Homo sapiens: one gene and its partners. The protein of the gene in region 2 purifies or fractionates together with the protein of the main gene of each other region. This does not show direct contact. Each region holds a gene or a part of one and is shown on either strand. Other genes may lie near its edges.

The links.
Region 1: the proteins of SLC8A1 (region 2) and TMEM37 fractionate together in Homo sapiens (co-fractionation; one large-scale study listed by BioGRID). This does not show direct contact.
Region 3: the proteins of SLC8A1 (region 2) and ST13 fractionate together in Homo sapiens (co-fractionation; one large-scale study listed by BioGRID). This does not show direct contact.

What each region holds. Positions count from the first base shown.
Region 1 is NC_000002.12:119,434,808-119,439,107, reverse strand, and holds the end of TMEM37 (voltage-dependent calcium channel gamma-like subunit), read right to left. Parts: intron 2,818-4,300; exon of another isoform or gene 2,723-2,817; intron 2,220-2,722; coding exon 1,668-2,219; 3' UTR 604-1,667; downstream 1-603. UniProt on the Homo sapiens protein: Thought to stabilize the calcium channel in an inactivated (closed) state. Modulates calcium current when coexpressed with CACNA1G.
Region 2 is NC_000002.12:40,427,953-40,431,601, reverse strand, and holds part of SLC8A1 (sodium/calcium exchanger 1 isoform A precursor), read left to right. Parts: intron 1-1,297; 5' UTR 1,298-1,321; coding exon 1,322-3,129; intron 3,130-3,649. UniProt on the Homo sapiens protein: Mediates the exchange of one Ca(2+) ion against three to four Na(+) ions across the cell membrane, and thereby contributes to the regulation of cytoplasmic Ca(2+) levels and Ca(2+)-dependent cellular processes.
Region 3 is NC_000022.11:40,829,081-40,832,729, forward strand, and holds part of ST13 (hsc70-interacting protein), read right to left. Parts: intron 3,592-3,649; coding exon 3,489-3,591; intron 1,877-3,488; coding exon 1,760-1,876; intron 595-1,759; coding exon 546-594; intron 1-545. UniProt on the Homo sapiens protein: One HIP oligomer binds the ATPase domains of at least two HSC70 molecules dependent on activation of the HSC70 ATPase by HSP40. Stabilizes the ADP state of HSC70 that has a high affinity for substrate protein.

The DNA of each region.
Region 1 (4,300 bases), about 79 Mb from region 2:
TCTGGAGGGAAGTAGAGAAACTCCCCTCCGTGTCAAGGAAAAGGCATCCTGCTGGTGGGTGGGTCAGCTCTACTCCCAGCTTTGGGTGACCCTGGACAAGTGCATCCCTCTCTGGGCCCTGACTCCCCACCTCCATACATCCCCTCCCCGTGAAGAAACCAGGGGGTTACACATCCCCTTTGCAACTTGTAGATTGCTCCAGGTTCCCATTTCCCAGGCTAAGATGCCGCCAGTGTGGTTGATGAGCTCTGTACTCTGTAAAACTGAGCAATTCATGGAAACCTTTCCAGGATGATCTCCATGGACTCTGGGCACCTTGGTGGTTCAACCTTAAAGCCCATGGCCTTATATCCTACAAAGCAGACAGCTTCATGACTCCATGCATCCTGGAATAAAAAATTTAAAACATCACAATAGACGTAGGTATAGGCACTCAGCCCAGACCAGGAAAGGAACCTGCAGCAGTGACAAGACCGGGGCAGAGACCAAAAACCCATGCAATTGCTGGGAGCCAGAATTCAACAGGTGAGGGAATGGGAAGGAGTCAGTGTAGAATGAAATGGGCTGAGGGCAATAACATCACCTACTTCTGGGCAGAAAAAGGACTAGAAAGGGAGCACTTTAATGAACAGAAGTACAGACGTGCTGGCAAGGATGGAAATCTCCACTGGTTCCTGGCCCCCTTCACCTCCATGCATCCCCAGCATGGGTGTTAATCATTACCCAAGCTCTCGCTGTTCCCCCTCACCCCCTGCAGAGTCCAGCAGGTCTAGATACGTGCTCTTTGAAATGTGTTCTGGGATTAAAAATGGTGCCCTGAGGCTGTCTAACCCTCACAAAAGACAGACACATGCACACACGGGCCTTGGGGAGGGCTGTGTATTAGCAGTCAGGTGGGCCCTCCTGGGAGAGCTTGCTCAAGAACTCTTCTCGGAAGGAAACCCACCTTAAGGTAGGGTTCTGATAGGCAGAGCTCCCAGAGGCACAGCCAGCTGCTAGAAGATGGGGTTATCCAGGGTTTGTAAGGTTTAAACAACGGGCAGGGAGGCAAACCGAGTCAAATGGTTTGGAAACCTACTGTGTGCAGGGCATTCTGAGGGAATCCTGAACTCTGCCTCTTTGGCATGACCAAAGCTGAAGCCAGGGACATACATACGAAGGCCCTTTGAGCTGGTGGAAGAAAGTCCTAGGCACTGATTGGACCCTTAGCTGGAAGAATGATCCATTCTTAACAACCCTGGGAGCCCCAGGGATTCTGCAGCCCCTATCCCAGCACGTGTCAATGAAACAGGCATGAACTATCCTTGGCTGTGCAGCTAGCTCAGGTACCAGTTACCCCTGTGCTTCCAACTGTATTCCAGTCCAGGGAAGAAAATTCAAGAAGGAGTTTTAAAATGTTTTTTTCTTCCTCTAAAATCAACATCTGGCTAAGCCTGTGCAGTTGGTGGCACTGAGGCACCCTCCTGGCCTCTGGCCCTGCAGACCAGGTGCAGAGGCCCCCGGGCCATTTCTGGCTGACCACCCACAAGTTATCGGCAAACAGGCAGCCGTTTCAAGGCCCTTGTCCAACCCAGCCCCACCAGAGGCCACATGCTGGAAAAGTCCCATTTTGACCATATTTTCTTGTGGAATCTGATGTCCCTGGAGGGGGCCTAAAATTTCCACGGTCATTCCCAGGGATGGGTGATGCTGTTGATGTGAAGGCCGCTGATGGCGTTCAGGAAGAGGAGGAAGGAGGCAGTGAATTCGCACCAAAACATTAGGGTGAAGCCGATGAGTGTGACTTGGTTCCTGAGGAGGATCACAAAACCCAGGAGCCCGCCGGAGGAGAGGACGAAAGACACCAGGAGGAGGATGGAACCCATGACCCACTTGCACTGTGAGTGTTTGTCCTCGCACAACTGGGACACCATGAGGAACTCCAGGCCAAAAATGGCGGCCACCACGGCCAAGGCGCCCACGCTGCGTACCAGGCCCATGCCCACGGCCAGCCCGGGCACATGGGCCTGGCCCAGGTCTCTGAAGCAGATCGTCTGGTTGGTGGTGGTGCAGAAGTGCCAGAGCCCGAAGAGGCGGTCCTCAGCCAGGAGCCAGTGCCCATCACAAATGGAGACCGAGGACAGGACCACAGCCAGGGCCACACACGTGATGATGAGGGTCCGGATGAAGGATTCAAAGAAGGACCGGCGGGGCTGCCTTTGGCCCAAAGGCCTCTGGGCCTGGAAAAAACCGTAGGAAGCACCCTGTCAGCCACAGCCCTGCCACGCCCCCAGGAACCTCTGCAGGGAAGACCCCTGAGCCCTCCATCCTGCTCCGCACTGTCTTATTCTCTGCTTGGTCTCCTGTGAAGCCCGGAACAGACCAGACCCACCGTTTGGGGGGAACCCTTCCTCCCTTCCAGACCTGTGAGCATTTACCATCCAGTATTCACCAGGCACTAAGAGCTTCCTGACCTTTCTTTCTTTTGTGATCTTCAGAGTGGGTGAGAAGTCCAAACCGACTGGCAAATCTGAGTCAGTTCTGAGTTCAGAAAACCTGTCGTGCCTGCATCCCATGACCTTGAGCATGCAGCCTGCCTCGGTTTCTTTGTACATAAAACAAGAATACGGCCTGGCAGAGTTGCCAGGGTTGTACCAAGCACTGAGACATTAGCACACCAATACACAGTTCTGTTTCCCTCCATCTCCCCAGGATACACGATTTTGTCCTAATCCCCACCCACCTGATGATTCGGGAGCTGTCCACGTTCAGCCCAGGACTCTAGATTATTGCCTCGTTTTTCTTGGTACTGAAAGTGACATTTGCATCTTGCCCTCAGACCTGTGCGGCCTGTACCCTACCCAGAGCTTGCCAACCCCATTGTCTGCTCCTGCAGCTTCTGGGCATGGGAAGGCCATTGCAGCTCTCCTCCACTTCCGGTTCAGCCCTGGAAGGAGGCGCCCCCACCCCGGTCTCCTGGCAAGCCAGGCTAGGTGTCCAGTGAGGTGTCTCATCTCACAGTTCAAGGACACCACCCGGGCACTGCACCCAAGCCCTGACCCAGAAAGCAAAAGAAAGACTTCAGGAACTCTTTACACAGCCCACAAGCCTCTCACAATCCGCTCCGCCTCCCCACCCAACCTCAGCTCCCAGCACACTCCCCTCTCCCCATGTCTAGAACTTTCTTTCCTCAGATGACTGGCCCTTAAGCCTGTAGTGGCTCTTCTGCAGCTCCTGCCACCCCTCCAGGACAACACCTCTTCTCCATTCTTCATGTCTCAGCTTAAAGTCTCCTCCACAGAGAGTGCTTTCCTGCCCACTCAACCCAGAGTCAGGCCCCTCCTGGTATTCTGTGTCAGGCACCTGTTCAAATTCTTCACCATTCTGAGGACAGTTTGTAGTTACATATTATTTCTGTCTCATTCCAACACTGTGTGCTCTGGGAAGGCCGCCCCCTACCCCCACACCACCACATTCTGTGTTTAGGCACTGCTGTGTCCCCAATACCTGGGCATTCAGTGGGTGCTCAAGGGAGAGCTGTGAGATAAGTCAAAGGTCATTGGCAACCACTGTCACTTCCGTCTGAAGCTCCTTTAAACTGAGTCTCCTGCACAGTCATACATTAAATGACCTGCTTTGCAGTGTGTCTAGAAGCTGCCCAGGTTACACCTCGGTTTGGGAGGTATGCAAAACAGGCACGCATGACGGTCACTGCTAGGACCCAGGAGAATGGAGCAGTGAGGAACATGGGGTGTGTCCTATGCCATGGGCAAATGGAGGCTTCCTGAGGCAGGTCTGGGCCACTCCTCTCTGTGTGAGACATAAAATAAAGCCCTGCTTCTGGGAGACTCCTGTGGTCAAAGAGCCCAGCAAGAGTATCTGCTCACATGCCCCAGACACAGGAGCTACCGCTAATTTCAACCCCAGGGATACAGGAATAAGGATGCAGTTTGCTTTCAGCACCTCTGCCTTAAGTAGGATCCTATTTTATTCTTAAACCTATGAGGTTGATAAAGTAGGAAGCTCCATGGTGGGTGTACAGAGAAGGAAACTATGCAGAGGGCAGGTGACTTGCCTGAGATCACTCACCTAAAGCACAATGAAGCTCTTTATGGCTGCCCAGACAATTGTATGATATGCAGGAGGTGGAATCCGTTCAGCGAATAAATACTGACTAGGGCCTTCTAAGGACAGGGCCTTTGTGCTAGGGGCTCAGTACTGAGCCCTTACAGCCCTCCCTACATGGGCTGTAAGCTCCTGGATGGGAGGGACCGCACTTGGTCTGTCCCAGCACGCTGCCTGGCCAGGATTCCAGACATGT
Region 2 (3,649 bases):
GGAGCAGACCTTCCTCTACTTCAGTTTCCCCTCACCTCCATCCCAGGTTCTGGAAGCAGAAGGGATGTAAGGTCTGAGTAGAGTTTTGCTTGAGCTGGTGGGTGGACTTAAGGCCATGGTGGTTGAGTCCACTGCTATGCCTACCAAGCTTTGTGTGCTGCTCACTGACTCTGTTGCCATGGCCCTCCTTGCCTACAGTCCTTCATCATGTGTATATTTTGTGGTCACTCTTGTCATGCCACATGAGCTAATTTAAATGGAATTATTGGTCCTGCATTTTTTGGTCACTTGAACCCTCGACAGAACTAATATGTATTTTAGAATGACCATGGAAAATATGACCGACACCGAGAAGGAACATTTTAAGGTTGGTGACGCTGATTCCACAGCCTGCCAGGCGCTTACCCACAACTAGGCCTTGGCCTGTTTATCTCCCTTTCCAGCCTGCAGAAAAACAGGCTCTGTACACAGATGTGAAGAGCTGTGCTTGAAGAACCAGATGCCCAGCTGCTAATGTATCAGCAGACCTGGGCTGGCTGAAAATTAGAAAGAAATGTGCTCTCATCAAAACATGCTTTTAAAAACTGTACTTAATGTGTGGAAATATTGCATTATAGCAGAATTTTTTTCTCCTCAAGAACAAATGCCATTGAGCTTTGATTTCAGGCAAGCTTGAAGTTTTGTTTCCAAGTAAGTGTGGAGCAATAGGACATGATTTCATGAAATACAGTGTAAGATGCTCTCTGGCGTTTAAGATAATCACCAGGCCTTGTGTTGGTGGGATTTTTTCGGAGTCTGATTTTCAAAGCATCAATTGTAATAAGGTGCTTTTGGCATTGAAACCGTTTTTGGAAGATGATGTACTAACACAAATTTAGAAGAAAATCTGCTTTAGTAAAAAGGAGGAAATTGTTTAATGCTTCAAAAGTCCTGTGATTTTGGCTATTAGCATGCATAAATGTGTGTTTAATAAGGCAAGGCTATATAAATTGAACTTTTCCTTTCCAGTAAGTCAATTGTGTATCTTGCTCAGTGAATGGGTACTACATGTAGTAAATTCACAGAAAGATTGAGTTGTAAACTTTACAAAGGATTGCTTAGTCACTGATGGAGTCTTAGAACAATCATTCACCATAGATTTTGTGATGGTCAAATATAAACAAATTTCGGTTTTGTGATGGTCAAATATAAACAAATTTTGGTAAGAGTAATAAAAATAAGTAATTAGTAATGCTTTGGCTGCAGCTCTAATGACATGACTTTTTTTCTGCCCTCTCCCCCATCTTATTTTTACCAGTAGGTTGTGACAGTTGGAAGTGTCATGTACAACATGCGGCGATTAAGTCTTTCACCCACCTTTTCAATGGGATTTCATCTGTTAGTTACTGTGAGTCTCTTATTTTCCCATGTGGACCATGTAATTGCTGAGACAGAAATGGAAGGAGAAGGAAATGAAACTGGTGAATGTACTGGATCATATTACTGTAAGAAAGGGGTGATTTTGCCCATTTGGGAACCCCAAGACCCTTCTTTTGGGGACAAAATTGCTAGAGCTACTGTGTATTTTGTGGCCATGGTCTACATGTTTCTTGGAGTCTCTATCATAGCTGATCGGTTCATGTCCTCTATAGAAGTCATCACATCTCAAGAAAAAGAAATAACCATAAAGAAACCCAATGGAGAGACCACCAAGACAACTGTGAGGATCTGGAATGAAACAGTTTCTAACCTGACCTTGATGGCCCTGGGATCTTCTGCTCCTGAGATTCTCCTTTCAGTAATTGAAGTGTGTGGCCATAACTTCACTGCAGGAGACCTCGGTCCTAGCACCATCGTGGGAAGTGCTGCATTCAATATGTTCATCATTATTGCACTCTGTGTTTATGTGGTGCCTGACGGAGAGACAAGGAAGATTAAGCATTTGCGTGTCTTCTTTGTGACAGCAGCCTGGAGCATCTTTGCCTACACCTGGCTTTACATTATTTTGTCTGTCATATCTCCTGGTGTTGTGGAGGTCTGGGAAGGTTTGCTTACTTTCTTCTTCTTTCCCATCTGTGTTGTGTTCGCTTGGGTAGCGGATAGGAGACTTCTGTTTTACAAGTATGTCTACAAGAGGTATCGAGCTGGCAAGCAGAGGGGGATGATTATTGAACATGAAGGAGACAGGCCATCTTCTAAGACTGAAATTGAAATGGACGGGAAAGTGGTCAATTCTCATGTTGAAAATTTCTTAGATGGTGCTCTGGTTCTGGAGGTGGATGAGAGGGACCAAGATGATGAAGAAGCTAGGCGAGAAATGGCTAGGATTCTGAAGGAACTTAAGCAGAAGCATCCAGATAAAGAAATAGAGCAATTAATAGAATTAGCTAACTACCAAGTCCTAAGTCAGCAGCAAAAAAGTAGAGCATTTTATCGCATTCAAGCTACTCGCCTCATGACTGGAGCTGGCAACATTTTAAAGAGGCATGCAGCTGACCAAGCAAGGAAGGCTGTCAGCATGCACGAGGTCAACACTGAAGTGACTGAAAATGACCCTGTTAGTAAGATCTTCTTTGAACAAGGGACATATCAGTGTCTGGAGAACTGTGGTACTGTGGCCCTTACCATTATCCGCAGAGGTGGTGATTTGACTAACACTGTGTTTGTTGACTTCAGAACAGAGGATGGCACAGCAAATGCTGGGTCTGATTATGAATTTACTGAAGGAACTGTGGTGTTTAAGCCTGGTGATACCCAGAAGGAAATCAGAGTGGGTATCATAGATGATGATATCTTTGAGGAGGATGAAAATTTCCTTGTGCATCTCAGCAATGTCAAAGTATCTTCTGAAGCTTCAGAAGATGGCATACTGGAAGCCAATCATGTTTCTACACTTGCTTGCCTCGGATCTCCCTCCACTGCCACTGTAACTATTTTTGATGATGACCACGCAGGCATTTTTACTTTTGAGGAACCTGTGACTCATGTGAGTGAGAGCATTGGCATCATGGAGGTGAAAGTATTGAGAACATCTGGAGCTCGAGGAAATGTTATCGTTCCATATAAAACCATCGAAGGGACTGCCAGAGGTGGAGGGGAGGATTTTGAGGACACTTGTGGAGAGCTCGAATTCCAGAATGATGAAATTGTGTAAGTTCTATATTATATATGTGTGTGTGTGTGTGTGTGTGTGTGTGTGGTTCAGTGTGTTTATGAATGTGAGTCTGTGCATCATTTTTTAAATTAAATAGCATGCAAGGAATGGAATAGCTTTTATACAAGATCCCTTTCAAGATATCAGTCTTTGCTTGGGTGCCAGTTATCAATATGCTCTGCACACAGAGATCTTAAATTTATTTACATCAGAATTTTATTTTTACTTTTATACATTTACACATTTTAACTACATTGTGACTATGATAAAATGAGTGATGGGACACAGTTTATCAGATGACTTAAGACAGGCTGAGAAATTGGTCTTCTATTTTGAATCACATGGTATATACTCAGAAAAGGAATATTTAAAACATCACAATAGGTCTCTAACTTCGTTTCTGAGTACAAATTGGGAAAACCCAAAAAGGAAACACCCTGAAAATAATTTCTTGGCTACCAGGGCTGGCTGAAAATATTTTTGTGGCTTTTATGTGACATTGTGTTTTGTGACAAT
Region 3 (3,649 bases), on a different chromosome or scaffold from region 2:
GTTTGTTTTCTGTTGCTGTGCACATACTCTTTCAGAATAAAGGCTAGATTTTCTAGCATCGGATCATGCAACTAAGTTCTAACCAGTGACATATAAGCATACGTAGCCTCTAAAAACTTTCCTTAAGAGAAAGCTAGTTACCATTAAACAACTGGAGACAGTTGTTTAAAAAACAAAAAATTAAGTCTTGTCCTGGTCTTTATATAAATTCCACACTGTCGTAATCAGGAAGTACTCAATAAATCTTCTGCGTGCCTTTTCCGTCTCTTCTATCTCTGTGTTAGTCCTGTCCTCTGGTATTCAAAGATTTGCCTCACTAGCAATTTCTGATCACATTTGAAAGAAAAATACGCTATTTTTACACTGTACAAAAAACATCATTTTTATGCCTAATAATTCCATCATTTCTTTTACCTAGGTTCTTCATGAATATCACTGTATAAGAGAACAAAATCAGAATATCACTTTATAATAAATATTAAGTATTATATTAAAATATCACTGTATAATAGAACAAAACAGTTTTAACTTTTCTTTAAATATACCTGGAAAAGAGCCATACTGAGCTCCTGACTGTCGTCTGGCTTCTTCCTCCTTTGATACAAAAGGAAATAAATTATATAATAGAAGAAGAAATAAGTGCTGTCCATGCAACCTGTCCATGCAAGACCATGAAAAAATTGTAAAATAACCTAGTAGATGGCAATACTGAACTGAAGGATATACTTCATACCCCCTTCAAACATTTTTTCCAAACTGGATTCTCAGTGGGCATTATTCTTGGTAGTAATTTCAAGTAAAGTGTTTTACTTCTACTCTGGAAACAAGTAAACCTGGAAAACAATTTATAGTACTAATATGAAAACTCTAAATTCATCCTGGCTTTAAAACACCCATAGGGAAGGACATGGCTAGATTACCAAGACTACCATGACTTTTGTTTCCTAGGTACATCTTTTCCGTTATTCTCCCTACATAATACAAATGTAGATTTATTGATTTGTTTTTGCTGCTTTTTAAAAGAGAAAATGAACAAAAAATAAATATCCCTCATATGTAGTTTTAAAATTATTGAGGAGATATATTGCTTTTAAATATCAAGGAGATAAATTACTTTTAAAGATTATAAACTATAACCTTAAAATCAAGTATGATGCTTAATATTAAATGGACAAAAAATTAGAATGTAACATATTATATAATACAGCCTTAGGTTCTTTCATGTTCTTTCATTCAATAATGTTAGAAATAAGTAGGTGAATTATTGTAGCATCACACTATGTTGCCCAGGCTAGTCTCGAACTCCTGGGCTCAAGTGAACCTCCCACCACAGCCTCCCAAGAGCTGGGACTATAGGCACTTGCCACCTTGCCCTGCTAGAATCATTTTTAAATAGCAACACATCCACTGTTGGAAGAGAGGAGGAATCATAAATTTAATTAATCTGGCGAAGCATCCTCAAAAGATCAAACAATAATACTGTCACATTTCAATTACTTGACCTGGAAAAACAACTGATTTTATAAAAACACAAACAAGAATATAAAATGGTGAAATAAAAGCTCACTGAATAATTTAAGACTAAAAATGTCCCCCAAATTAGATACAGTGAAAGGAGACTCCCCATAAGTAATATCATTACTCTATAGAACTGTAGCCAGCATTAAATAAAAGAGCCAGGAATTAAAATTTTAGTGTCCTAATGCCTCTACATAATTTGCCGTATTTTCCTTTCATGGCTTAGCTATAGGAAATTTACCCTCTGGGCTCTCTCATGCTCTTCTCGAGCCTTCTTAACTCGTTCTATTCTTTCTTTGATCTCTCGCTCTTCACGTTTTCGCTCATACTTTCTCCGATGTTCTGCAATTTTCTGTGCCTAGAAAAAAGAGCCATAGCAAAATAAGCTTGCTCCAAAAGCTGAATAACATCAACACAAATATTCTTTGTAGAGAGATGTTTAATTCAACATGCAGTTCAGAAAAATGACAGATTTGTCTTGTACAAAAAGACCTAACACAAGCTAAGCCTTTAAGAAAACCAACCTCAACTGCATGAGGCACTGTAAAACAGAGTAAAGGGGCCTGGGATTTGAAGTTAGAAATGTTATAATCTCAAACAATTAAGCTCAAAGATTAACAAACAGGTTTCTAAGTGCATGACAATTCTTGCCTGCTAGTTTCTATCAGATACACAGTGTTTAGGTTTCAGACGGACAGCTGAATTCAGTAGGAAGAGTATTATTACGGATGTCTGCCGTGGGAAGGCAGAGACTGGGAACTCATACCCCAAGTATATGCCACAGTATATTTAAGTTTCTGTATCCATAAAATGGGAGAGGAAGAAATATTTAATATTATCAAATTGCTATAGGGATTAAGAGGGAAAAATGTAAATATGTATACCAGACACTAGTATCAAATAAATGCTCTGGATGTTATTTCCTCAGAGAATAAAATACATTTAAGAGATTCATATTCAACTGTCACTTTAGCTTGTTTACACTTTGCTGACAAAGTTACAACTTTGCCCTATTTTAAGAAGAAAACAGAAAACCAAATGAACTCTCTGGCAGTAAATAATTAAATTCAATACAATTCCCACTATCTTAAAATCTCTGAGAGTAAATTCTTGACAGCTGAACTTCCCACAAAATGAAGGATTTACCATGTAAACACATTAAAATTATTTTAACCAACAATTTTAGATAAAAATCATCCTTAAAAGCTGGAATGTTCTACTTTTGGGATTCAATATTATTATTTTTAAAAGATTGAAACTTCTTTGTTTTATTAAGACAGCCTCGCTCTGTCACCCAGGCTGGAGTGCTGTGGCGTGATCTTGGCTCACTGCAACCTTCCACCTCCCAGGTTCAAGTGATTCTCCTGCCTCAGCCTCCCGAGTAGCTGGGACTACGTAGGCGCATGCCACCACACCTGGCTAACTTTTTGTACTTTTAGTAGAGACAGGGTTTCACTACGTTGGCCAGGCTGGTCTTGAACTCCTGACCTCATGATCCACCTGCCTCGGCCTCCCAAAGTGCTGGGATTACAGGCATGAGCCACCGCGCCTGGCCGGAAAGCCTGAAACTTCTTAACTTCCACAAGGTCTTCTTGCTTTATAAAGTGGTTGTACACACCTATGATAAATAAGGACACATCAGATTCAATCCTGGGTAATGCTAATTATAGATTTTCTATTTGTTTCCTTGTTGTAAACCTGATACCCCCTTTTCTAATTTTCTGGTTATAATTCCACTGCAGGCTTCCAAACAAAGTAACAGAGTTTGCTCTAATAATGCATGAGAAATGAAAGCATGAAAACCTAATGAGATCTCCAGAGTCGAGCACAAACTTCAGCAATTACAGATTATATCTTCCAATGGTTTGTTTCTTTGCCTGTTTTTCAGATGAATTACAGCTGTCGGGGGCTAAGCACTACAGCGATGGAGTATTTAACTAATGACTTTCCCTTTCTCTACTTTGACATACCCTAGGTTGAACTTCTTTCAGCATTGCACTAGCATCTTCATCATAATCCAATTTACAGGCAAGGGCAAGATCATGGGCTGCTTCTTCCCAGTGGCCTAGAAGTCTGAAACAGATTTACACTCATTTTAGGAGCCTTTTATACATATTCACCTATGTGGCAT